Homo sapiens: one gene and its partners. The protein of the gene in region 1 purifies or fractionates together with the protein of each later gene. This does not show direct contact. Each region holds a gene or a part of one and is shown in the gene's direction. Other genes may lie near its edges.

The links.
Region 2: the proteins of TNFAIP2 (region 1) and ENAH purify together in Homo sapiens (affinity purification with mass spectrometry, with the first as the bait; one large-scale study listed by BioGRID). This does not show direct contact.
Region 3: the proteins of TNFAIP2 (region 1) and FGD6 purify together in Homo sapiens (affinity purification with mass spectrometry, with the first as the bait; one large-scale study listed by BioGRID). This does not show direct contact.
Region 4: the proteins of TNFAIP2 (region 1) and FAM83A purify together in Homo sapiens (affinity purification with mass spectrometry, with the first as the bait; one large-scale study listed by BioGRID). This does not show direct contact.
Region 5: the proteins of TNFAIP2 (region 1) and DSG2 purify together in Homo sapiens (affinity purification with mass spectrometry, with the first as the bait; one large-scale study listed by BioGRID). This does not show direct contact.
Region 6: the proteins of TNFAIP2 (region 1) and EDNRB purify together in Homo sapiens (affinity purification with mass spectrometry, with the first as the bait; one large-scale study listed by BioGRID). This does not show direct contact.
Region 7: the proteins of TNFAIP2 (region 1) and FKBP9 purify together in Homo sapiens (affinity purification with mass spectrometry, with the first as the bait; one large-scale study listed by BioGRID). This does not show direct contact.

Annotation. Positions count from the first base shown.
Region 1 is NC_000014.9:103,126,461-103,129,960, forward strand, and holds part of TNFAIP2 (tumor necrosis factor alpha-induced protein 2), read left to right. Parts: coding exon 1-232; intron 233-544; coding exon 545-1,169; intron 1,170-3,279; coding exon 3,280-3,394; intron 3,395-3,500. UniProt on the Homo sapiens protein: May play a role as a mediator of inflammation and angiogenesis.
Region 2 is NC_000001.11:225,520,624-225,524,123, reverse strand, and holds part of ENAH (protein enabled homolog), read left to right. Parts: intron 1-3,500. UniProt on the Homo sapiens protein: Ena/VASP proteins are actin-associated proteins involved in a range of processes dependent on cytoskeleton remodeling and cell polarity such as axon guidance and lamellipodial and filopodial dynamics in migrating cells.
Region 3 is NC_000012.12:95,207,468-95,210,967, reverse strand, and holds part of FGD6 (FYVE, RhoGEF and PH domain-containing protein 6), read left to right. Parts: coding exon 1-2,125; intron 2,126-3,500. UniProt on the Homo sapiens protein: May activate CDC42, a member of the Ras-like family of Rho- and Rac proteins, by exchanging bound GDP for free GTP. May play a role in regulating the actin cytoskeleton and cell shape.
Region 4 is NC_000008.11:123,192,665-123,196,164, forward strand, and holds part of FAM83A (protein FAM83A), read left to right. Parts: intron 1-1,359; coding exon 1,360-1,484; intron 1,485-3,500. UniProt on the Homo sapiens protein: Involved in mitochondrial maintenance during adipogenesis. May be acting by playing a role in the maintenance of normal mitochondrial function.
Region 5 is NC_000018.10:31,501,177-31,504,676, forward strand, and holds part of DSG2 (desmoglein-2 preproprotein), read left to right. Parts: intron 1-3,500.
Region 6 is NC_000013.11:77,898,410-77,901,831, reverse strand, and holds part of EDNRB (endothelin receptor type B isoform 1 precursor), read left to right. Parts: intron 1-624; coding exon 625-774; intron 775-1,177; coding exon 1,178-1,311; intron 1,312-1,864; coding exon 1,865-1,973; intron 1,974-3,422. UniProt on the Homo sapiens protein: Non-specific receptor for endothelin 1, 2, and 3. Mediates its action by association with G proteins that activate a phosphatidylinositol-calcium second messenger system.
Region 7 is NC_000007.14:32,977,940-32,981,439, forward strand, and holds part of FKBP9 (peptidyl-prolyl cis-trans isomerase FKBP9 isoform 1 precursor), read left to right. Parts: intron 1-1,517; exon of another isoform or gene 1,518-1,637; coding exon of another isoform or gene 1,638-1,644; intron 1,645-2,424; coding exon 2,425-2,614; intron 2,615-3,500. UniProt on the Homo sapiens protein: PPIases accelerate the folding of proteins during protein synthesis.

The DNA of each region.
Region 1 (3,500 bases):
TCGGAGGCCTCCTCTGAGGACCTGGTGCCACCCCTGGAGGCTGGGGCAGCCCCATATAGGGAGGAGGAAGAGGCGGCGAAGAAGAAGAAGGAGAAGAAGAAGAAGTCCAAAGGCCTGGCCAATGTGTTCTGCGTCTTCACCAAAGGGAAGAAGAAGAAGGGTCAGCCCAGCTCAGCGGAGCCCGAGGACGCAGCCGGGTCCAGGCAGGGGCTGGATGGCCCGCCCCCCACAGGTGCTCTAGGACCCTGGGTTAGAGCTAGTCTGGGGCCTGGACGGGGTTGGCGCTCATCCGCGTGAGTGAGCCACTTGCACAGTGGGCCGGCAAGTGGGGCTGGAAGGCGCGTCTGTCTCCCTGCTTTCACCTGTGCCGCAATCTGGGGGGCTGGGAGGCCTTCAGCCTAGTCAGGGACACCGACATCACCCTTTAGGGTGTTGGCCGCCGGCCCTGTGCGCGTCTAGGGGAGGACGGTCCCGCTTGGCGCTGGCCGCCCCGCCCGGTGGGCGGTGGGCTGGGGCCGGGGCTGACGCGGCTTTCCCGGCGCAGTGGAGGAGCTGAAGGCGGCGCTGGAGCGCGGGCAGCTGGAGGCGGCGCGGCCGCTGCTGGCGCTGGAGCGGGAGCTGGCGGCGGCGGCGGCGGCGGGCGGTGTGAGCGAGGAGGAGCTGGTGCGGCGCCAGAGCAAGGTGGAGGCGCTGTACGAGCTGCTGCGCGACCAGGTGCTGGGCGTGCTGCGGCGGCCGCTGGAGGCGCCGCCCGAGCGGCTGCGCCAGGCGCTGGCCGTGGTGGCGGAGCAGGAGCGCGAGGACCGCCAGGCGGCGGCGGCGGGGCCGGGGACCTCGGGGCTGGCGGCCACGCGCCCGCGGCGCTGGCTGCAGCTGTGGCGGCGCGGCGTGGCGGAGGCGGCCGAGGAGCGCATGGGCCAGCGGCCGGCCGCGGGCGCCGAGGTCCCCGAGAGCGTCTTTCTGCACTTGGGCCGCACCATGAAGGAGGACCTGGAGGCCGTGGTGGAGCGGCTGAAGCCGCTGTTCCCCGCCGAGTTCGGCGTCGTGGCGGCCTACGCCGAGAGCTACCACCAGCACTTCGCGGCCCACCTGGCCGCCGTGGCGCAGTTCGAGCTGTGCGAGCGCGACACCTACATGCTGCTGCTCTGGGTGCAGAACCTCTACCCCAAGTGAGCAGACCAGGGGCTGGGCCCGGGCCGGCAGGGAGGGTGTCCTCTGTAGGAGGGGTGTCGAGGGGTGTCGAGGTGTGCCGCCGGCAGCTTTTAGTGAGGTCGGTGTTTGCAGAGTTTTGGGTCCGAGAATGCAGGGGTGGGACTTGGACTCCCTGGGGCAGAGCCTGGACAGGCAGAGACTGGGCCTGGACACAGGGATAAGGCTGGGGCTGGGTCTGCGTTGCTCTTGGAATCCTTAATTTCCTGGGCCTCAGTCACATTCTGCTGTTGGGGAAACTGAGGCACAGAAAATGGTAGGGATTTCATTCACGAGCGCCCAGTCTGAGGAGGGGGCAAAGCAATCAATAACCATCCAGAGCTGGAAGGGCTGTGGCAGCAGAGGCCAGGCCCCGTGCAGAGCATGGGCCCAAAGCAGGCCTGGAGAAGTCAGGGAAGCCAGCCTGGAGGAGGTGAAAGCCAGCGGTCCTTCTCTGAGCCAGGGAATCAGGCCAGGAGGCAGGAGGAGGGGTGATAGGGCAGGTAGGGGAGAAGGTGAGAGGAAGGTCGGTGCTCCTGAGCATGTCCTCTTCCAGGGCACTCTGGAGCTGAGCAGAGCTATGCGGGCACCCCCAGGCAGGAGAGTTCCAAGTGATGGGCTAGGGCCACGTGTCTTGTTAGACCCCCATTGTGTAGGGTTACCCTGTGAGCCCGCCGCAGAGCTGGAGCCCCTCAGGTGGGAGGCTGGCTGTGCAGCTGGTACCCCTGCTGAGTACAGCCTCAGGCGTCCCTTGACTCCATAGATCCCTGGGCGTGCCCGTCATTCGCACGGTCTGCATGGAGAGAGGCTTACTGCAGTGTGGAAAGGCCCAGGGCGGGGGAGTCCAGGGGCTGTTATTGTGGGGCTTGGCCACTGCTGGCCCCAGATCCTAGTGTGAAACTTTAGGAAGGAAGCCTGGAGGTATAGACAGTGTGGGCAGTGTCTGCCGTCTCGGGGGCCTTGGGTGGCCTGTGGGCTCAGTTCGTGTTGAAGGGTCAGCCTCTGGCAGAAGGATAGAGAAAGGGTCCAGTGGAGAGGGTGGGAGAGGAGTCAGCAGGGCATAGGGGAACTGGCACAGGGCAGGGGCCACGGGAGAGATAACCCAGCCCAGAGCCAGTTCCCGCTTGCTCGTCCTGACTCACCAGGAAATGCCGGGCACCTGCACCCCTGCCTGCCAGTCTTTCTGTCCCAGTGACCTCGGGGTCTGCTGGCCTGGGGTTAGCAACAGGCAACTAAAGCCAAGCTGGGCATGGAGCCCTGGTGAGAGGGTGCCCAGGGGGGCATCGTTGAAGCCTGTGTGCCAGAAATGTGGGGAACGGAGGGACACAGCTGCATCTGGATTGGGTGAGGGGCAGAGAGAAGGTCATTTGTAAACCTCTAGGCAGACAAAGGGCCCTTAGGAAGTGCCAGGGCTGGGCAGTCCCCTGGGAGCTCTGGGGCGCTGCAGAGGCGCCAGGACAGTGAGCCAAGATGCGTCTGTGGAGCAGTTTGGGGCAGCCCTTCCTGCCCATTCTGGCCTACCCCTGGGATTGGGAGGTGGCCGGGGCTGGTGAGATGCCCAAGACCTGCAGGGCTGGAGCGCAGTGGGCTGGGAGCTGGCTGGATTCCAGGGCTGCTGTGAGTAGGAGCAGGGTTTTATCTGGGTGACAGGTAGTCTTGGAGCAGGAAGAAGATCAGATCTTAAAGGTGGCTCTGGCTGCTGGGTGAAGAAGGAATTGTTGGAGGTGAGGGAAGGAGCAGAGAGGCCGGGAGGAGGCTTTTGCAGTGAGCCAGCGGGGAGCTGATGGGAGCCGGCCAGGGCGCCAGAGTGGCATGAGGCTGCTGATTTTGGGGGCTATTTTGGAGCAGGACCTAATGGGGGGGGGGTGGTGAGAGAGTCAGAGGAGGCATGATGACTTCAGAGTTTCTGTTCCAAACCAAACTAAGTAGATGGAGGACCCATCATCTGAAATGGGGACCGGGTGGGGGTGCGGGAGGGTGTGCTGGGCAGTCTGGGCCTGCCAGAGACCAAGGCTGAGGGCCTGGGCTCTAGCTTGAGTGGTGGTGCTGATTTGGTATAGTTGTCCTCATGCCAGCCTCCCCTGCCTGCAGTGACATCATCAACAGCCCCAAGCTGGTGGGTGAGCTGCAGGGTATGGGGCTCGGGAGCCTCCTGCCCCCCAGGCAGATCCGACTGCTGGAGGCCACATTCCTGTCCAGTGAGGCGGTGAGTCTCCACCTGGGCCAGGGAGGGGCAGGGAGGCAGCAGAGGAGAGGCTCGGAGACAGACAGGACATGGGCAGGGAGCTTGACGGGTCTTCCAGGTGAGCGAG
Region 2 (3,500 bases), on another chromosome or scaffold:
AACTGTGTCTGATATTTTTTAAATGCTTAAAAAATAATATTGGTGATTTGCACTATAATTGTTTCTGAAAAAAATTTATATTCTCAGAAACTTTCAAATTATTGTAGAATATATATGCCTAGCTTAAAAGAAAAATTAAAGTAGTCCGTCAGGATTTTTCATGGTTCAGAATTAAGGCACTCTTTCTTTGAAAAAAGTCCTCAGACGATTCTATTAATGACTGAAGAAAACAGTTGGAGAGAGAACTCTAGGAAGAGGAGCCATGTGCATTTCCAGTATGTGAATTGGCAGCGATAATTCTGAGGAAAAGCAAAGTTTATAAATTTGGAAACTCCTCCTAGAAAGCTACACAAATGTCTTGCTTTAGAGGTCAAAACATGAGAGTCAAATTTATAAACCATCCAATTTAGGTGGGAATTATTCATGCCACACAAGATTCGGAAGCCAGAGATTTTCTGCTTGAATCACTATTTTGGGAAATCCGTTTAGATGGGCATCTTTTCAGCAAGCAAGCTAAAAATTAGCTTAAAGTGTTCAACACTTTCTTTTCTTACCTTCAGAACAAGAAAATAGTAAGAATCTCCTGCAGCTATATGAATTGCCTGCTTGAATCATCTGTCTGTGAACTTAGAAATATTCTCCAGCATTGTGTCCTTTTCCTATATCAGTAGACACTCCTTATCTTTTATAGCCTGAAAACCCTGGAATATGATGACATGTGGAACAAACTTCTTAAGTCAATACAACCTAGCTGTAAATGCTGTTACCAATAATTCTTTCAGATTCACCTCACCCATGCCTGGCCTTCTGCTTGTGACTTAAGCTTACTTTTTGTGTGTTAAAAGCATTGTATTGCTTAGAGAAACAGCCATTAACTTGGTGGTTAAAAAAAAACCCAACTACTAAGAACTTGAATGAGAAATGAAATGTAGTCATAGAATACTATTTGGTTCAGCTGTGAGCAGTATTTACATTATCATGTTAATAATGTAAGCTGTGAATATTGATTTTCCATATTGGGAGAAGCATGAGTGTAGTGAGGGAGTTGTAGAAGGCATCTTCCTGTTAGAAAGTAGATAGCAAAAGCTAAAATGTAAGAAACAGCTGCAAGAGTAGGAAACGGGTGGGAGGGTTGAGGCAGTGAACTACTGATTTTTGTTATAAACTTTAAAAACTATATATTTATGTTGTTTTGGTAAAATAGAAGAAGTAACAAATGCTCAAAGATCTAAAAACTTAGATCTTTTCATCATAGATTTCTTGGGACAGCTACTGTGCTCTTAAATGTTTCTCTTTAGCTTCTGTATTTAAATTTGTTCTAATTAGAATAATATGGGTGTATCTTTTGCCCTTTGGGCCCAACAGATTGCTTAGAGCATTATATGTAAAATGGCCCATATTTTTTGATGTAGGTTGAATTATCTGAAATTTAATACAGGCTCCAGCTGAGTTTATTAACTGCAGGTTACTGGAGAAACAACAACAACCAACCCTGACTTTCCTCTGTTTATTATTAAAAACATTCTTTTGAATACATCTAATTTCTTCCCCTCATCCCTGCAGATAAAGTTATTGTTATCCCTCAAAAACTTTGGCAGCTAGTGATTTATCAAATAGCATAATGAAGTCCGTACTAGATCCTGAAAATCTGATTTTATTAGTAGTCAGTATCTCAAACAACTACTCATAAATAAATAACTACTCATAAATAAAGTCAGTTTCTTGTGTTTTTCTCTTGCAGTCATTGTTAAGTGTGATGGTATGTCCAGGAGAGGGTGTGTGTTTTATGAGAGCAGTGGGGTTGATGTATTTGTCAAATGGGCCTTTTCTTTTGTTGTATAGCCAGCTTAGGAAACATGAAGGAGAGAGATTTTTGGAAAGATCTTACTGGTGTGTTGGTACCGCTGGAAGGAACAAAGGGATAGCATGCATGTGCTGTCATTTAGCTTTGTCTCTAACTAGACCCACCCAGTTTATTAGCCAGTCCAGAAAGTCCCAATTTGAAATTTCCAAATAATAACTATTGTTGGGCCGGGCGCGGTGGCTCACACCTGTAATCCCAGCACTTTGGGAGGCCAAGGCGGGTGGATCATGAGGTCAGGAGATCGAGACCATCCTGGCTAACACTGTGAAACCCCGTCTCTACTAAAAATACAAAAAATTAGCCGGGCATGGTGGCGGGCACCTGTAGTCCCAGCTACTCGGGAGGCTGAGGCAAGAGAATGGTGTGAACCTGGGAGGTGGAGCTTGCAGTGAGCCAAGATTGCATGGCTGTACTCCAGCCTGGGCGACAGAGCAAGACTCTGTCTCGGGGAAGAAAAAACAAAACAAAACAAAAAAACTATCGTTATAGCCCACATTGAACGTTCTTATGTTTCAAGTACTTCTTAAAGAGCTTTTAGGTATTACTTCATTTAATCTTCCCCACAGTGCTATGAAATACGTATGTGTAAGATAAAGATACTTTTTTTTTTTTTTTTTTGGAGACAGGGTCTTACTCTGTCACCCAGGCTGGGGTACAGGGGCATAGTCTCAGCTCACAGCCACCTCCATTCCCCGGGTTCAAGTGATCCTCCTGCCTCAGCCTCCCAAGTAGCTGGGATTACAGGCGCACACCACCACGCCCAGCTAATTTTTGTAATTTTAGTAGAGACAGGGTTCCACCATGTTGGCCAAGCTAGTCTCAAACTCCTGACCTCGGCCTCCCAAAGTGCTGGGATTACAGGCATGAGCCACCGTGCCTGGCAAAGATAACTTTTTTTTTAGGGAAGGTTAATTGACACAACTTTTCCTAAAGACAATTTGGAACCATGTATCAAAAATCTTAAATTCATACCTTTTCACCTAGCAAAATTTATGTCCTTATTGATCCTATAGAAACAGAAAAAGATTCAAAGATGAAGACAAATGTTATTGCAGTATTGCCAATAGTGTTAGGATAACTTAATATCCTACTGTAGGAGACTGCTTAGACTGTGGACAGCAAAATAATCGAATATTATTATGCACTCATGGAAAATAAAGATGCTGAACTAAGTGCCTTAGGATAACTCTGTGTGTGTGTGCGCGCGCGTGCGTGTGTCCATCCAGAGTTGTACACACAGGCAGGTTCTCATCCCAGATATCCTCAGTTTTACTAACTTATGTCTCCCTCCCTCCCTCCCTCCCTCCCTCCCTCCCTCCCTCCCTCCCTCCCTCCCTTCCTCCCTTCCTTCCCTTCTTTTTCTTCCTTCCCCGCTTCCTCCTTTCTTTTCTTTCATTGTTTTTGGAGACAAGGTGTCATTCTGTTGCCTGGGCTGATGTGTGATGATGCAATCTTATCTTACTGTAGCCTCAGACTCCTAGGCCCAAGCAATCCTTCTCCCTCAGCCTCCCAAGTAGCTGGGAATACAGGTGCATGGCACCATGCCTGGCTGATTTTAAAATTTTTTGTAGAGATGGGTCTTGCTTTGTTGTGCAGGCCCATCTTGAACTCTTGGGTTCAGACAATCCTCCCACTC
Region 3 (3,500 bases), on another chromosome or scaffold:
TTTCACCAATGTGTTCCTGCAGTTCTGAGTGTATCCATAAGCTGGGCCATAGAGAGAATTTGTGTGTAAAGCAGCTTGTTTTAGAGCCCCTGGAAATGAATGAAAATTTAGAAAACAGTAAAATTGATGAGACTTTGACTATAAAAACTAGGAGTAAATGTGATTTGTATGGTGAAAAAGCCAAGAACCAGGGTGGGGTTGTTTTAAAGGCAAGCGTTTTAGAAGAGGAGCTCAAAGATGCCTTAATACACCAAATGCCACCTTTTATTTCTGCACAGAAGCACAGGCCCACAGACAGCCCAGAAATGAATGGTGGCTGTAATTCAAATGGACAATTCAGAATTGAATTTGCGGATTTGTCACCTTCCCCATCCAGCTTTGAAAAAGTTCCTGATCATCACAGTTGCCACTTACAGCTTCCTAGTGATGAATGTGAACATTTTGAAACTTGCCAGGATGACAGTGAAAAAAGCAATAATTGCTTTCAGTCATCTGAACTAGAGGCTCTGGAAAATGGGAAAAGGAGTACTTTAATATCTTCAGATGGAGTTAGTAAGAAATCAGAAGTCAAAGACCTTGGTCCCTTAGAAATTCATTTAGTACCATATACCCCAAAATTTCCAACTCCCAAGCCCAGAAAGACACGAACTGCTCGTCTGTTACGCCAAAAGTGTGTAGATACTCCTAGTGAAAGCACTGAAGAACCGGGGAATTCAGACAGTAGCTCTTCCTGTCTTACTGAAAATAGTTTGAAAATCAATAAAATCAGTGTTCTGCATCAGAATGTTTTGTGTAAGCAGGAACAGGTGGATAAAATGAAGCTAGGAAATAAAAGTGAATTGAATATGGAATCCAACAGTGATGCACAGGACTTAGTCAATTCACAGAAAGCCATGTGTAATGAAACAACTTCCTTTGAAAAAATGGCACCTTCTTTTGATAAAGACTCTAATTTGAGTTCTGACAGCACAACTGTAGATGGTTCTAGTATGTCGCTTGCTGTGGACGAAGGGACCGGTTTTATAAGATGTACTGTATCTATGAGCCTGCCTAAGCAGCTCAAATTAACTTGCAATGAACATTTGCAATCTGGGAGAAACCTGGGAGTTTCTGCCCCTCAAATGCAAAAGGAATCTGTTATAAAAGAGGAAAATTCTCTACGAATTGTCCCCAAAAAACCTCAAAGACATAGCTTGCCTGCTACAGGAGTGCTTAAAAAGGCTGCCTCCGAGGAGCTTTTGGAAAAAAGTTCTTATCCTTCAAGTGAAGAAAAAAGTTCAGAGAAGAGTCTAGAAAGAAATCACCTTCAGCATTTGTGTGCCCAAAACCGTGGTGTGTCATCCTCCTTTGATATGCCTAAACGGGCTTCAGAAAAGCCAGTGTGGAAGTTACCTCATCCTATTTTACCCTTTTCAGGGAACCCAGAATTCTTAAAGTCTGTCACCGTATCGTCAAACAGTGAGCCTTCAACAGCCCTAACCAAGCCCAGAGCAAAATCGTTATCTGCTATGGATGTGGAAAAGTGCACTAAGCCTTGCAAAGACTCTACAAAGAAAAACTCTTTTAAAAAGTTGCTCAGCATGAAACTGTCCATCTGTTTCATGAAGAGTGACTTTCAAAAATTTTGGTCCAAGAGTAGCCAACTCGGAGACACCACCACAGGCCACCTCTCCAGTGGGGAGCAGAAGGGGATTGAAAGTGATTGGCAAGGCTTGTTGGTAGGAGAGGAGAAGAGAAGTAAACCCATCAAGGCATATTCCACAGAAAACTATAGCCTGGAATCTCAAAAGAAGAGGAAGAAGTCTCGGGGCCAGACCAGTGCAGCTAATGGTCTGAGAGCTGAGTCTTTGGATGACCAAATGCTCTCCCGGGAGTCATCATCTCAGGCACCTTACAAGTCTGTTACAAGCCTCTGTGCACCGGAGTATGAAAATATACGCCATTATGAGGAAATACCAGAGTACGAGAACTTGCCATTTATTATGGCTATACGGAAAACTCAAGAGTTGGAATGGCAGAATTCCAGCAGCATGGAGGACGCTGATGCAAATGTGTATGAGGTAGAAGAGCCGTATGAAGCTCCAGATGGCCAGCTGCAGCTTGGACCCAGACATCAGCATTCCAGGTAACAGGTGCCAGACAGACACTTTTGCATGCATCATTGCAATTAACCTTCAACAGCCTGGTGAGTTAGGAATGCAGGGGGAAAAAAAACACGTGGTTGAAGGAATAGTTTAGAAAATGTGTAATTATTCTCAAGTGCAGCCTCCTTTTAGCATACAGTTGGAATGGGTATTTGCAATACAAGCTTGAAGTAGTTAATTTATTTTAGTAACCGATTCAAAGAATTTGAACCAGTGGCAATGTAGGTGCTGCTGCAAGGAAGGCGTGGAACAGAGAGGTCCTGGGCCTCCAGACACCAGCTCAGAAGTCATATCAGGAAACCTGGGGCAGGAAATTGGCCAATTCAATGACATTTATTTGCTAGGTATAAGAAGTCTGAAGTTACTGAAATATGTAGGCATTTACGTGTGGTGCGCTTATCAGGTGGAACCTCCACATTTTTAGAAGTTCACCACTCTTTGAAGATTGGTCATTTTACCTGTTGATGGCTAATTGCTGACCTCAAGTGGATATAGGAAAAATGCAGGAAACACGTAACTACTCTTTATTTCTCACTTTTAAAATAATTTAATTAAAAAAAAATTTTTTTTTTGAGATGAGGTCTTACTCTGTCACCCAGGCTGGAGTGCAGTGGTATGATCATGGCTTACTGCAGCCTCGACTCCCCAGGCTCAAGGAGTCCTCCCATCTCAGCCTCCTTGAGTAGCTGGGACTATAGGTGCATGCCACCATGCCTAGATAATTTTTGTATTTTTTGTAGAGACAGGGTTTTGCCATCATGCCCAGGCTGGTCTTGAACTCCTGGGCTCAAGCACTGCTCCTGCCTTTGCCTCCCAAAGGGTTGGGATTACAGGCATGAGTCACTACACTGGGCCTATTTCTCACTTTTGTGTGTGCACTTCCTACCTGTGGAATACCTACTCCATCTCTCTTATTAAAATCGTGCCCATCCTCAATAATCCACCCCCTCAGTCTTTGGCTTCATTAAGCTTCTACAATTACCTAGTCAGAAGTGTTTACTTCCTATTCTGACCACCCAGTTATGCTGTGATATCCTTTCATCTCAGGCTGTCTTAATGTATAACTATTTATTGGCATGTCTGATGTTCTGTATTTGGTTTTAAGCTCCATGAAGAGTTCTAGTCATCTCTTTGCCCTGGATAAAGCCAAGCAAGAGGCCTAGTAGAATCAGTAGATGTTGATTGGGTCTAAGAGAGAATGAATGAAAATAGGCCAAGAGAGCAACCACTGCAGCGGCTTCCTTCTCTCCATAGTCGCATAGGTAGCTTTTCCATTGTATTTCTAATGTTTGTTTGTGTTTAACAAAAAAGCACATGGACCCTTTTGGAAATCTTTAGATTGTTCTTAGTCCACTA
Region 4 (3,500 bases), on another chromosome or scaffold:
AGAGGTTCTGTCCTCTGGGAGAACCTCCCAGATAAGAATGAAGCCTCCTCCCTCCCTCCCTTCCCCTCTGCACAGATGCAGCTGAGTTCAGTGCTGCCTCCTGCTGCCACAGGCCTTGGGACCTCTGGCTGCTGGTCTGTTTGGCATGACGTAGATCATACCTCCTTGGCACGAGGCCATTGAAACAGGTCAGAAGTGTCAGAACTGGCCTTGCTTTCATGGCCTATGCTGGCCACACCTGACAGTACTCTGCTCACCATAGGACAATGGTGTCCCTCCTCTCAAGATCTCACAGAGCTATGGAGAAGCCCAGGGGAAGCGGCTGGAGGCAGGACTGCCCTTCCCAGGACCTGCCAAGCCACCAGCAGTCTTTTGAGGAATCCAGACAGTATTCCACCTCCCTCAGCCTTAACCCTGAGACTCCCACACTTTACCCACTCTTCCATTTCTCCAGCCTTCCAGCTGTACGGCGGGAGCAGCAGGTGCTACAGGGAAGACAAGGGATAAATAGAGCCATGGTAGGGTTGCAGACTCACCTTTGCTTAAGACAATACAGGGTCTATTGCTACCTCCACAAAACCACCTCCTCTGGCTGCACCGAGCCTTCCCTCTGAACAGCTTAGGGTCAGGGACTCAGGTCAAGCCACTTACAAGGCAGGGCTGGGCTTGCCTCCAAGTAACTGCCAGGCCACCTGTGGCTCATGGGGGCCTAGACTCGGGGCTCCATAGGCATTAGGCCCTTGCTTTTCTTTTATTTGCTGCCTTATTTGAATTCTACCACCTTCCTTTTTTTTTGTTGCCAGCTGATGCCAGGACAGTGAAGACAATTTAGACAATTCAGCCCAGGGAAAATATTAATATGGTCCAGAATCCCACCAACCAGAGATAACACATTTCCATCTTGATGAACATTCTACCAGACATTTTCATGCACAAATTGTCTTAGTCCATCACAGCTGCTATAACAGAAGTCCATAGACTGGTGGTTCATAACAACAGAAATTTATTCCTCATGGTTCTAGAGGCTGGGAACTCCAAGATCAACGTTCTGGCAGATTCGGCGTCTGGTGAAGCCCACTTCCTGGCTTATAAATGGCTGTCTTCTTGCTGTGTCCTCACATGGCAGAAGGAGTGAGGCAGATCTCTAGGCCTCCTTTATAAGGCACTCCTCCCATTCATGAGCACTCCATCTTCATGACCTAATCTCCTCCCAAAGGCCCCACCTTCTAGTACCGTCACCCTGGGGATTAGGTTTCAACACAGAATGGGGGTAAAGGGAACATAAACATCCAGCCTAAAGCCCAAATGTATCTCTATAAACAGAATTAGGAAGTGACACCTTGACTTTCCCTCCAACAGAACATTTCCATCCGGAGTGTGGAAGGAGAGATATACTGTGCCAAGTCAGGCAGGAAATTCGCTGGCCAAATCCGGGAGAAGTTCATCATCTCGGACTGGAGATTTGTCCTGTCTGGATCTTACAGGTGAGCCTTGGATTCATCTCCTGTCAAGGATTCATGGAGAACAAGGGCTGAGTGAGGTGCAGACCAGCTCCCGCTGCTCAGACACAAACACCCCCAGCAGCTCCCAGAAGGTCTCCCTCTGCCCGGAGCTGGAGCTGCATCACATAGATGGGGTGAGAGGCAAGAAATGTGGACCCTTTCTGGCAAGAATTCCAGGTAGAGAGGCATTTCCAGGTGCCTCCGTTTCCCTTGATATTGCAATAGGACGTAGAATCCTCTTCTTTTCCCTCCTCGGATATCTTAGACGTGATTATAAAGTGATGCAATTTGTTTAGTTGTGTGTGTGCACATCCCATTGCTTTTTTTTTTTTTTTGAGATGGAGTCTCGCCCTGTCACCCAGGCTGGAGTGCAGTGGTGCAATCACAGCTCATTGCAACCTCCGCCTCCAGGATTCAAGAGATTCTCCTCCCTCAGCCCCCCAAGTAGCTGGGATTGCAGGCACCCGCCACCACGCCCAGCGAATTTTTGTATATTTAGTAGAGACGGGGTTTCATCATGTTGGCCAGGCTGGTCTCAAACTCCTGACCTCAGGTGATCCACCCATGTGGCCTCCCAAAGTGCTGAGATTAGAGGCGTGAGCCACTGCACCCAGCCCCGTTTTATTTTTTAAATTTTTATTATTTGCTCAAGCAACCCACCAGCCTCAGCCTCCCAAAGTGTTGGGATTACAGGCATGAGCCCCTGCGCCCAGCCTCAATTTGTGTTTAGACCCTCACACATAGACTCCTACATCCAAATGACTGACCACCCATTTATTCTAACAATGCTACCTTGCCTGAGTCTGCCTTTGAAACTTGACTTCAGAGCTTAAAAGATATTCTTTGAAATGTTCTCAGTGGCGGCGCTAGGGAAGTGGATTTGATGGTGGATTTTGTGAGAGGGATGAAATGAGAGAGCAATTGAGGAAGGGAGGAACAGCCGAAGGTCATTTGGGAACATTTGTTTAGGAAGGTGATGAGTGTGACAGAGAGTGCAGAGGAGGGCAACTGGTTACATCTTTTCTTGCTTCCTCTGCTGCAAACACATAGTAGTGACCAGTGAAATATGAGCACAAACATTGGGATAAGCTGGGAGTGGAAGGCAGGTTTCCAGGGGGTGTTAAGGATGCAGTCTTTCCCCAGGGAGCAGGAGCCCGCAATGCTGTTCCAAAGCTAGGTGAAGCCAACTGGCAAATCTCTAGCCAGAGACAAATGAGCATAAAGGGAAAGAGAGAAGGGAGGGCGGAAAAACCCCTACATTTAAAATGTGCTATCTTTCTTTAGCCTTATTAGTGCCGTTTAGCTGAAATTCCACTTTTAATGATATTAACATTGCTACCTCCAGTCTTCCTTGGGCTTAAATTTGTACAGTGTCTTAGTCCATTTGGGCTGCTATAATAAAATCCCATAGACTGGGTAGCTTATAAACAATGGAAACCCATTACTCACAGTCCTGAAGGCTGGGAAGTCCTAGGTCAAGGTGTGGGCAGATTCAGTGCCTGGGGAAGGCCCACCTTCTGTCTCATAGACTGCTGCCTTTTCACTGTGTGACACAGTGAAAGTGTATCTTTATCCCTTCATGGTAAAAAAAAAAGGTGAGGGAGCTCACTGGGGCCTCTTCTGCAAGGGCACTAACCCCATTCCTGAAGGTTCTACCTTCATGACCTAATTATGCCCCAAAGGCCCTACACACTAATAGCATCACATTGGGGATTAGGATTTCAAATATGAATCTGGAACAGAAACAGACATTCAGTCTACAGCACAGAGTATAACTTTCTCTCCATCCCATTATTTTCAAACTTGCTGATAGATTTTAAGTGTGTCTTTTGTGAACAACATATCATTAATTTTTGTTTTTTTGAGACGGAGTCTCGCTCTGTCACCCAGGCTGGAGTGCAGTGGTGCAATCCCAGTTCACTGCAACCTCTGCCTCCCAGGTTCAAGTGATTCTCCTGCCTCAGCCTCCCTTGTAGCTGGGATTACAGGCACCCGCCA
Region 5 (3,500 bases), on another chromosome or scaffold:
ATAATCCCCTGTATTTTATTTTATACATTTGAAATCATTAATCTGAGAAGGGGTTCATAGGCCTCGCCAGATTGCCAAGGAGGGCTCGTGGGTGAGAGATTTCCTGATGGTTGCTTCAATTTTGGGTTCGACTAATGAAGCTTGTGCTTTAAAATCAAACTACATTTTAAGGATTCAATGATAGCAGATCACACTGTGAGCAGATATATTTAGTAGGGTATTAGTTTGCTAGGACTGCTGTAACGAAGTGCTAAAAACTGAGTGGCTTAAAACAACAAAAATGTATGATCTCACAGTTCCAGAGGCTAGAAATCCAAAATCAAGATATGGGCAGGGCCATGCTCCCTCTGAAACCAGTTTCCCTCCTTTCCTCTTCCAAGTGCATACTGGTTTGTTGGCAATCTTTGTCATTCCTTCTCTTGTAGGTGCATTCATTACTCCAATCCTCCATCTGCGCATGGCATTCTCTCTTTTGTCTCTTTATATCATCTTCCCTCTGTGCATGTCTGTGTCCTTGTCCAAATTTCCCCATTTTATAAGAACATCGGTTGTACTGGATTATGCCCCAAAATAATGACCTCAGCTTGGTTAAATCTGCAGAGACCCTATTTCCAAATAAGCTCACATTCTGAGGTACTGGTGGTTAGCACTTCAATATATTATCTTTTAGGGGTCATAATTTGATCCATAACAAGTGGATTCAAGTATCTATAAATTATCAATAATATCAGAGTTATGCTTAGTGTTCTAATATACAACTGAATAATATATATTAAAGAATACATTAAAGTATAAATTAGATGGTGAATATTGAAGCCATAAGAATAATCAATTATCATATCCAAGGATTTTAGAAACATGGATTTCTTACTGGTTTTTGTTTCTAAAAGTTAGTAGGTAATGGGAAAATGGCAGCTCTTAACAGAAATTTTCTTTAATTATAACTTAAGGCAAGTACTTTACAAAGAGATATGAGCATTCATTGGCCTACGTACTCTCTGATTATTAGAAATCCCCGATAAGCTAAATTAAAGTTTCCAAGGCTAATATTCTGTGGTGTGTGAGTGTAGTGAGCCCTGGGGCGGGCTCACTACAATATAAATATGTATTTATAGAAACTTCCCAATTGATCTAATTGTCAGACAAGTGTAAGCGTGAGAATTACTGGTCTATATTTTGCAAAAAAATCTATATTTATGACATAGAAAAATTTACATGGGAAAAATTACACATTGAATAGGGATAAGTGTTTTTGAAAACTGCCAAATTATATTTAAAATTAGAAACTTTAGGCTGGGCACAGTGGCTCACGCCTGTAATCCCAGCACTTTGGGAGGCCAAGGTGGGCGGATCACCTGAGGTCAGGAGTTTGAGACCAGCCTGGCCAGCATGGTGAAACCCCATCTCGACTAAAAATACAAAAAATTAGCTGGGTGTGGTGGCACATGCCTGTAGTCCCAGCTACTCAGGAGGCTGAGGCAGGAGAATCGCTTGAACCTGGAAGGCGGAGGTTGCAGTGAGCCGAGATTGTGCCACTGCACTCCAGCCTGGGTGACAGAGGGAGACTCTGTCAAAAAAAAGAAGGAAGGAAGGAGGGAAGAAAGGAAGGGAGGGAGGGAGGAAGGAAGAAAGGAAGGAAGGAACTTTAACTGAAAGCATAAAGGACTTTTAGATCTATTTGAGCAATTTTTAATCACAGCTTTTTTCCCTTGTCTTTCACTCTGACACAGATTTCAATAGCTTTGACAACAATTTATAAACATATAGTCTACATATGATGAGAAACTATCTTCTCAGTTTTGTTTTTTATTAAGTTTTTGTCATATGCAAAGCTTGGTGATTAGAGTGAAGAAGCTGGAACAACAGAATTCCTACCGTGGTCGATAGTGAGATGAGAAATGTCCATAAGAAAAGAAACCAGACACATGACCCCTATTTAGTGAATCCCTGCTTGATGCTAGGCAATGTGCTAAACACTGGAGAACTATAAAAAAGCCAGACATGTTCTGCCCTCATGGTGCTTACAGTCTAATGAATGGTATAACAAGTAAATGGCTAACTTCCAAATGGGTAACGATAAGAAGAGTAATAATAGAGAAACGTAGTACCATGGAGCCTATAGAAGGAGCAACTATCTCAGCACTGGGTATCCCAGCTGGTATCTGAGAATAATTATAAATTAGTGAGATGATATGAAGAGAAATAGATTCTAGGTAGAGAGAAGAGCATCTAAAAGGCCTGAAAATGATAGTTCATGGTTCTGCAGAGGAACCTAAACATTCATTGTTGCTTGAACTTAGAAAGTGAGGCAGAAGAATGTATAGGAAGATAGGCCTTCAAGCCAACAGAAGCCCAGAAAAGCTACTTGCCAAGGAAGTGTTTTCAGGGAGGTATTCACATCACTAAGTAAATGAAAAGATGGGCTTTGGGTGAGATGGTCAGGAAAGAGTCAAGAAAGAAGAGATAGGATTTGAGTGATTAAGTATAATTGCGCCCAGTTAAAAAGAGAGGCAACAGGCATTGAGGACTTGGTAAGCTGAGATCAAAGCCAGGCAGAAAAGCCCAGAGACCATGGGGTACCTGGGAGGGAGAAGCAGCCTGACTGCCACAGGGAGATTGGTTTGGGAGCCAAAGGGGTGGGAAGGCATTTTGGTTGTCACAGTGCCTGAGGATGCCCCTGGTATTTAGTTCCCAAGGTCCAGGGATGCTAAGACTCTACATTCTGCAGAACCTTCAAGAATTGGGCACGTGTGAAGAATTTTTCTATCCAAAATGCTTATAGCACCCACATTGAGAAACAGTGATAGGCAAAGTAAGAGGTTCTAAGTAGGGATTTATTTTACTTGTCTGGACCCTCTTTTTGAAAGGCAAATATCTCTTGGGTTGATTACGCCTTGATACATTCGTCCACTCAACAAATATTGAGCACCTACTCTGTGCCAAGCACTGTTCCAGGTCTCACCTCGAAATCACACCTGACTGTGGATTATTTTCATCAGTCAAGGAGTTTCCATCTGGCTGACTGGGGAATGTTTTGGATGGAGATGAGAGGAGATGAGACCGTTCAGATTTCCCTCGGTCTAAAACACCTCCATCCCACCACTCTTTCAAGCCCCCTACAATGCAAACAAAAACATTAAACAATGTTTGATACCCACTGCCTCAATTTAATGATCCAGTCTCCTTAGACCCCAAAAGTGCTAATTGAGAAACTGGGCAAGGGTCCTAGCTCAGTCATCATCTTCTTTTAAAACCATTAATCATATCATTTCTTGTTTCAGTTATCGCCTTCCTTTGCTTTCTCAGTATTCTGGGGTTCCTTTCACTTACAGGAACCTGCAGTGCTTCTCACCCCTTTTTATCTGGCCTAGCACGATGGGCAGACGGCAGAGGGGGGGACACAGTACATATATTACTAGGAGACATCAAGTAGGGGTGGGAGACAATGGCAGTGGCCAAGAGGGTGCTGCCCTTAGGACAGTGTGCATGTGGATGTTGAG
Region 6 (3,422 bases), on another chromosome or scaffold:
TCCTATTAGTAAAAAGAAAAAAAAAGTGCTGCCTAGGTTACATAATTTCCTCTCCAACACAGATATATCTAAAGCAATATGAAAAAGATAACAGAGAAGAAAAAGAATAAGAGATACGACATAAGTCAAAAGCAGATTTTGTCTTTTTGCGAGGTTAGATTTATATGTTACTGAGCTAAATGGTTAACCTAGACCTTTTCGTATCTGTTGTTCCCATTAAACAAACTTGCTAAAAAATGAGAACTTCATCTAAACACTAAGTTATCTTTACATATTTAGGTGTTATATTTCACACAAAAAATACTCTAAGGATAAGTTTCTTATGTGAAGACAAAGCATTGAATTACCAAATATTTCAAATTTTGCCTAACTACTTAAGTTTTTGTGCATGCTTATAACACATTGTCTTAGAGAACTGAAATATTTTTGGGAAAATTTGTTTTATTTAACATGACTATTTATTTGTTCAGTAAGTGTGGCCTGAAAGATTCTGTATGATATATACAAACTGGATCTAATTTAGAAGATAATCATTCCCTGATGAATTTTTTTAAGTTTAACATTTGTTATATAAGATTTTCTTACAGAGGAGTATTAATCGTAAAAATTCTCTCATCCCTATAGTTTTACAAGACAGCAAAAGATTGGTGGCTATTCAGTTTCTATTTCTGCTTGCCATTGGCCATCACTGCATTTTTTTATACACTAATGACCTGTGAAATGTTGAGAAAGAAAAGTGGCATGCAGATTGCTTTAAATGATCACCTAAAGCAGGTAAGAAAATACAAATATTTGATAACTCGTGGTTGAATTTATAATTATGAATATGAAAATTATGATGATGATGATGATAAACTAACATTATTATATACCAGAGCATATTTCCTTTTTCTTGTTTCTGGTAGTTTTAAATAGATAAAGAATATTTTTATATTATTTATTTGGAGATATTCTATATAATCTAAAAGGATCTAGGGAGAATCAGAACTTTTTAAAGATGAATCTCTAGTCACTTCGGTTCCACTTCACATTAACTATTCCATATAAAGCTCAGTGTCCTGAGTTTTTACATATGCCACTGACTTTTTGTAGACAATATTAAATGTCGTTTTAGAAGATAGAATGCTATGAGTAAAATGAGCCATCTTTTAAGGGTCAAACTATGGATTTATTTCAGAGACGGGAAGTGGCCAAAACCGTCTTTTGCCTGGTCCTTGTCTTTGCCCTCTGCTGGCTTCCCCTTCACCTCAGCAGGATTCTGAAGCTCACTCTTTATAATCAGAATGATCCCAATAGATGTGAACTTTTGAGGTAAGAAAGGCAAACTAGAAATGGTTTTGTAAATAAATGCCACTCAGAAGTGTTTCCATCGATCTTTTTTATAGGCAGAAAGACAGACTACCATTTTTCTAACCCTTAGGAAGTCATGGAGACTCCCAATTTTTATCTGAGGTCCTGTTGAGAGGGACAGGGAAGGGGGGGTATGAAGAACACTGGGTACAGAGAGTCAGAGTTGTCAAGATGATGAGTGAGTGCCAAGGCGGAAAATGTCAGGTCCGATTCTCCAACGCGTTTTCTAAATTTCTTCTTTTCAGCCAGCTTCAGTACTTCCAAATGAGATTTTATTTTAAAAGAGAAGAATTGGGCCTGGGAAGGGGAAATGGAGGAAAGTCAGTAGAAATGCTAGAGTTAGAGGGGGACACAGACAGAGACAGGCAGAGAATCATTGTTAGCAAAGACGAGTGATAAATTTAGAACCATTGTATATTGGCATTTTTTTTCCTTACAAAAGCACAGAAGCTACAATGACTACATGTTCAGAATAGCATATTTTTCAGACACATTTTGGGTTATTTTGTTGCAGCTTTCTGTTGGTATTGGACTATATTGGTATCAACATGGCTTCACTGAATTCCTGCATTAACCCAATTGCTCTGTATTTGGTGAGCAAAAGATTCAAAAACTGCTTTAAGGTAAGAGACTATCCCAAAATAAAAAGCTCTTTGTAATATGGCTCAAATATAAGCTTTCAAAACTGCTAATATATCTATCCAGACAGATTTAGTAAATTATCTTATAGTTTCCCTTTTATTACATCATGGATGATTTTTTTAAATACAACTTTTGCTTGTAAATCACTATAATTGTTTTTTCCTATAAATCCTAGTCAGCCACTCCCTACTGCCTCAGCCAATCAGTTACACTCATGGAATTGTTGACCAAAAAGTAATAAAAATTACATGCATTGATGTCTGATAGGCATCACATAATAAAATAAGGGCTAAACATGAATTAAAGGCCCTGTTCCCTGTTTTTGGTAGATTCTGAACTTCGCAGCTGCAATTATTATTATAACTAAATTAGTTCCTTTTTCACATGGACTGTGAGAATAGCAAGGTAAACAAAAAAAAAATAGTTTAGGTTTTACCTCTTTCTTCCTTTTTTGTATAACAGTGATGTGCTGTTCAATGTGAAATACATATAATTCCTTCTTCAGCTGCTTGCATTTTATCATCCTTCTATTCATTCACTCCTTCAACAATCTAACATGAAATAAAATATCCCCTCCCCTAATGTGAAAATCATCCATTTGTCCATGGTATTTCACTACTGGAAAGCTAAGAACGTAGCTCCCGCGTAAACACTAAGGCAGCCTATAACATTCTTCGCCCACTCATAACTCAAATTTTAGAGTTGGAAGAGAACTTCCATCAGGATCAACACCCTCATTTTATAAGACATAAAACAGTGGACTTCTCATTTTCTTTTACAAATAGAATGAACAGAAGACAAGCAGAATGAAAAAATTTTTATATTTAAAAAAACTTCAAGAAAAAAATTGAAGAAAACTGAGATGCTTTTGTACTATATAACCTTATTGTTTACCAATATTGAAAAGAGATATGAGAATACATGGCTGAAAAAATAGGAAAGCAGTATTAAATTCATTGACATGAGAAGATATTTATGTCACTGTCAAGTGAGAAAAAGCAGGTTAAATCTTCTCAGCAAAGTGGCTTAGAATAACTTGGGATGAGGTGTTTGTGAAAGTATCTACAAGGTTATGGAGTATACATACAGTACAGTCTCAGTAAAATAATTATACTCACATTCTCCAGCACATGCACATATACATGTGTATAATTTATTTATTTCATGTATGTGCAAATATTTCTGTTTTCATGGGGAAAAGTCTTGAATTATATGTTTATCAAATATTATCAAATAACCAAGAGTAAATATCAATTAAAAGTGGCTTTCTCTTGTTGAGAAATTTTAACTATGTAGGTTTTTTTCTTCTCTGCATTTTTTTAGTTAAAAAATTATCATATGCTACTACTGTGATTATATTCTTTTAAGAGGGAAAATAAAAGAGCACTGAAAGAAAGGGCCCAAGAACTCCTAATCATACAAAGAAAGTC
Region 7 (3,500 bases), on another chromosome or scaffold:
GAGACAGAGTCTCACTCTGTTGCCCAGGCTGGAGTGCAGTGGTGCGATCTCGGCTCACTGCAACCTCTATCTCCTGGATTCAAGAGATTCTCCTGCCTCAGCCTCCTGGGTAGCTTGGACTACAGGCGTATGCAACCATGCCTGGCAGATTTTTGTATTTTTAGTAGAGACAGCATTTCGCCATGTTGGCCAGACTTGTCTCAAACTGCTGAGGTCAAGCCATCCATCCACCTCGGCCTCCCAAAGTGCTGGGATTACAGGTGTGAACCACTGTGCCTGGCCCACTTTTATATATTTTACATGCTGGGGATCTGCAGATGGTTTCTTAAACAGAGCATTAGGGGTGGAATTCCCTACTAAAAGAAAAATAAAGTTTAAAGCAGTGCCATAAATATGTCTTAATTCTCCCCCCCACTGAGATATAAGATACTGTTATTATTATTTTTAGAGACAGGGTCTCACTCTGTCACCCAGACTGGAGTGACACCATCATAGCTCACTGTAACCTCAAACTCCTGGGTGATCCTCCTGCCTCAGCCTTCCGAATAGTTAGGAGTACAGACGTGTGCCACCATGCTTGGCTAGTTAAAAAAGTTTTTTTAGAGACAGTGTCTCGCTACGTTACCCAGGCTTACCTGGAAATCCTGGACTCAAGCGATCCTCCCACCTCAGCCTCCCAAAGCGCTGGGATTACGGGTGGGAGCCACTGTGCCTGGCAGTTACTGTTTTCTTATTGATGTTCAAATGGTCTTGTCCTTGGCCCCAAGAAGTTCATTCACGTTGGCTCCCAGATCCTTTTGTCATCAGCCACATAACAAAACCAGATGTGAGCCTAATATGAGAAATATTATTTCTTTACTTTAAATAAATAATAGCTTATTTAGAGTAGTTATTTTTGAATACTTTATACTTGAATACTGTGCTCGGCTATCCAAGTATAACTTTAAATGGGTGAACTGTATGGTATGTGAATTATATCTCTGCAAAGTTGCTATAGAAAACATTATTCATTTAGTACACATTAATGCTAGAAAAATTGAAACCCCAGGCCGGGCGCAGTGGCTGCCGCCTGTAATCCCAGCACTTTGGGAGGCTGATTTGGGTGGATCGCCTGAGGTCGGGAGTTCAAGACCAGCCTGGCCAGCATGGGGAAACCCCGTCTCTACTAAAAATACAAAATTTAGCCAGGCGTGGTGGCAGGTGCCTGTAATCCCAGCTACTCGGGAAGCTGAGGCAGGAGAATCGCTTGAACCCAGGAGGCGAAGGTTGCAGTGAGCCAAGATTGAGCTATTACACTCCAGCCTGGGCAACAGAGCGAGACTCCGTCTCAAGAAAAAAAAAAAGAAAAGAAAAATTTAAACCCCATGGTTACTTTTAAGGCTTTCATTTTTCTCTTAAATGAAAAGATACAGTAAGGCACAAAAGATTAATATTCTATCTCCCACGCATGCGATTTAGGGATTGACCACACCTTGCATTCCAGGGGCTGACTCAGCAGCCGGCTTTCAGCAGATTTCATCATTCCTTGGATGGGAAGGAGATGCAGGGTGGGCTTTGCCAAAGGCCAGTGGAAGGAGCTCAGGCTTGGCGGCATCTGGTTTGCTTGTCTGGGCCTACTCCTTTGCATGATATAACAAATGGCAGGTAAAACTGAGGGATTGGTTTGTTGGTTAACTTTCTACTATCCCAAATTACTGGATTTTGAGTTATTTATTGGTTGATGTTGATCTTTGCAGGAAGAACTAGTGTCCTGTAATCTCTTCATGTGGATTTCATTTTGCAGATATTCAAAATATTCCCACTGGCAGGAACATCCAAGAGAAGCAGTACTACCCAGAAGTGAGATAGAAGTGATTTGAGGACTATTTATTTATATTTTGGATTGTGGGTGCCATTTTTTTCTCTGTTATTCTGCTTTCATCTTATTTATATCTTGCTTTGGATATACTTAAAGCATTGAGTTTTACTTTTTGCCTCTAAAAAATTGGCCGTTCGTTTCAAAGAACAAGTCTGTGTACAGTTCTCCAGAACCAGACCAGAGATTTGGAATTTTCTCCTTTAAATGTCTGTGGTTTGCATTTATTCACAAACAGAAACCCACAGAGGTATGTATTTGGGTTTGCCTGTGGGTGCCTGCCCACCTACATAAAGCCTTGATTTTCCAGCATGAGTCCAGAAAATATGGTCATGGTAGTCTCTTATGTCATTAATACCAATTTTCTCCTTTTGCTGAGTCAGGTTTTAGATTATACCATCAGCCCATGGTTGGACACCATGGGGGCCCATTCAAGACCTGGAAGAACATTTGTTTCCTTGGCTTCAAAACCTCAAGAAATGAATAACACCAACCCCAAGCCTGTTGAGTTGTAAAGTACTTCCTAAATCCTGTGTCCCGTTTAATCATCTTCTCCCATTCCATTCTAGGGAAAGACATTCCCGGTCAGGCATCTCTGGTGTTTGATGTTGCATTATTGGACCTCCATAACCCCAAGGACAGCATTTCCATTGAGAACAAGGTAGTACCTGAAAACTGTGAGCGGATAAGTCAAAGTGGGGACTTTCTCAGGTATCATTACAATGGCACGCTTCTGGATGGCACCCTCTTTGATTCCAGGTAAGGAAATGATTAAAGTCTTCAATTGCCAGAACATTGTATTAAATAAAGTCTGCCATTGGCTGGACCATGATTTAAATACTCTGTCCATGCTGATTTGTAGTTGGCATTTTCATCTCTAATACAAGTTTCTGTTTTCTGATACTTAGTTCTTTCCTCCCTTCCTTCCTTCCTTTCTTTCTTTCTTTTTTTTTGAGACGGGGTCTCGTTCTGTCATCCAGTGTGGAGTGCAGTGCAGCTGCATGATCGTGGCTTTCTGCAGCCTTGAACTCCTGGGCTCAAGCAATTCTCTCATCTCAGCCTCCTTAGTAGCTAGGACGATAGGCGTGTGCCACCATGCTTGGCTAATGTTTTATTTTTTGTAGAGATGGGCTTAAGTTTCTTCATAGGCTCTTGTAACCATTTCTTTCTTGGGGGCTGTTTTAGATGGTTCTGCAGGAAGACAGGAGAGACTCACCCTCGACTCCCACCATCCCCCTATACTGTGCTTAGTTATCCAGTTATAAACCTCATTATGGGGCCCAAGATGAGGAGTGGCCAGAAGTGATGTCAAGGAGGTACAGTGGGCAGAGAATGGGCTTAATGCCAAGAGAGCTGGGCTCTAGCCCCTGTCTGTGGTGCACTAGCTGTATGACTTTGGATAGTGTTTGACTGCCTTGGACTTCATTTTTCCCTATTCCAGCAACTTTGTCAAGTAGGTGGTTAGATTAAAGAGATAAGGTATGTGTCACAGTGCTTTACAAATTTCAGAGGCTGATCAGCTGGACGGCACTGGTTGGATGCATTCAGCTCCCTTCTGGATGCTGGGTGCCATAGAGGCTAATTACTGGCCTCTTTTGTTGTTCAAAGTTTTGTTTTGTTTATCAGCCATGGCCTGCAATTGTAG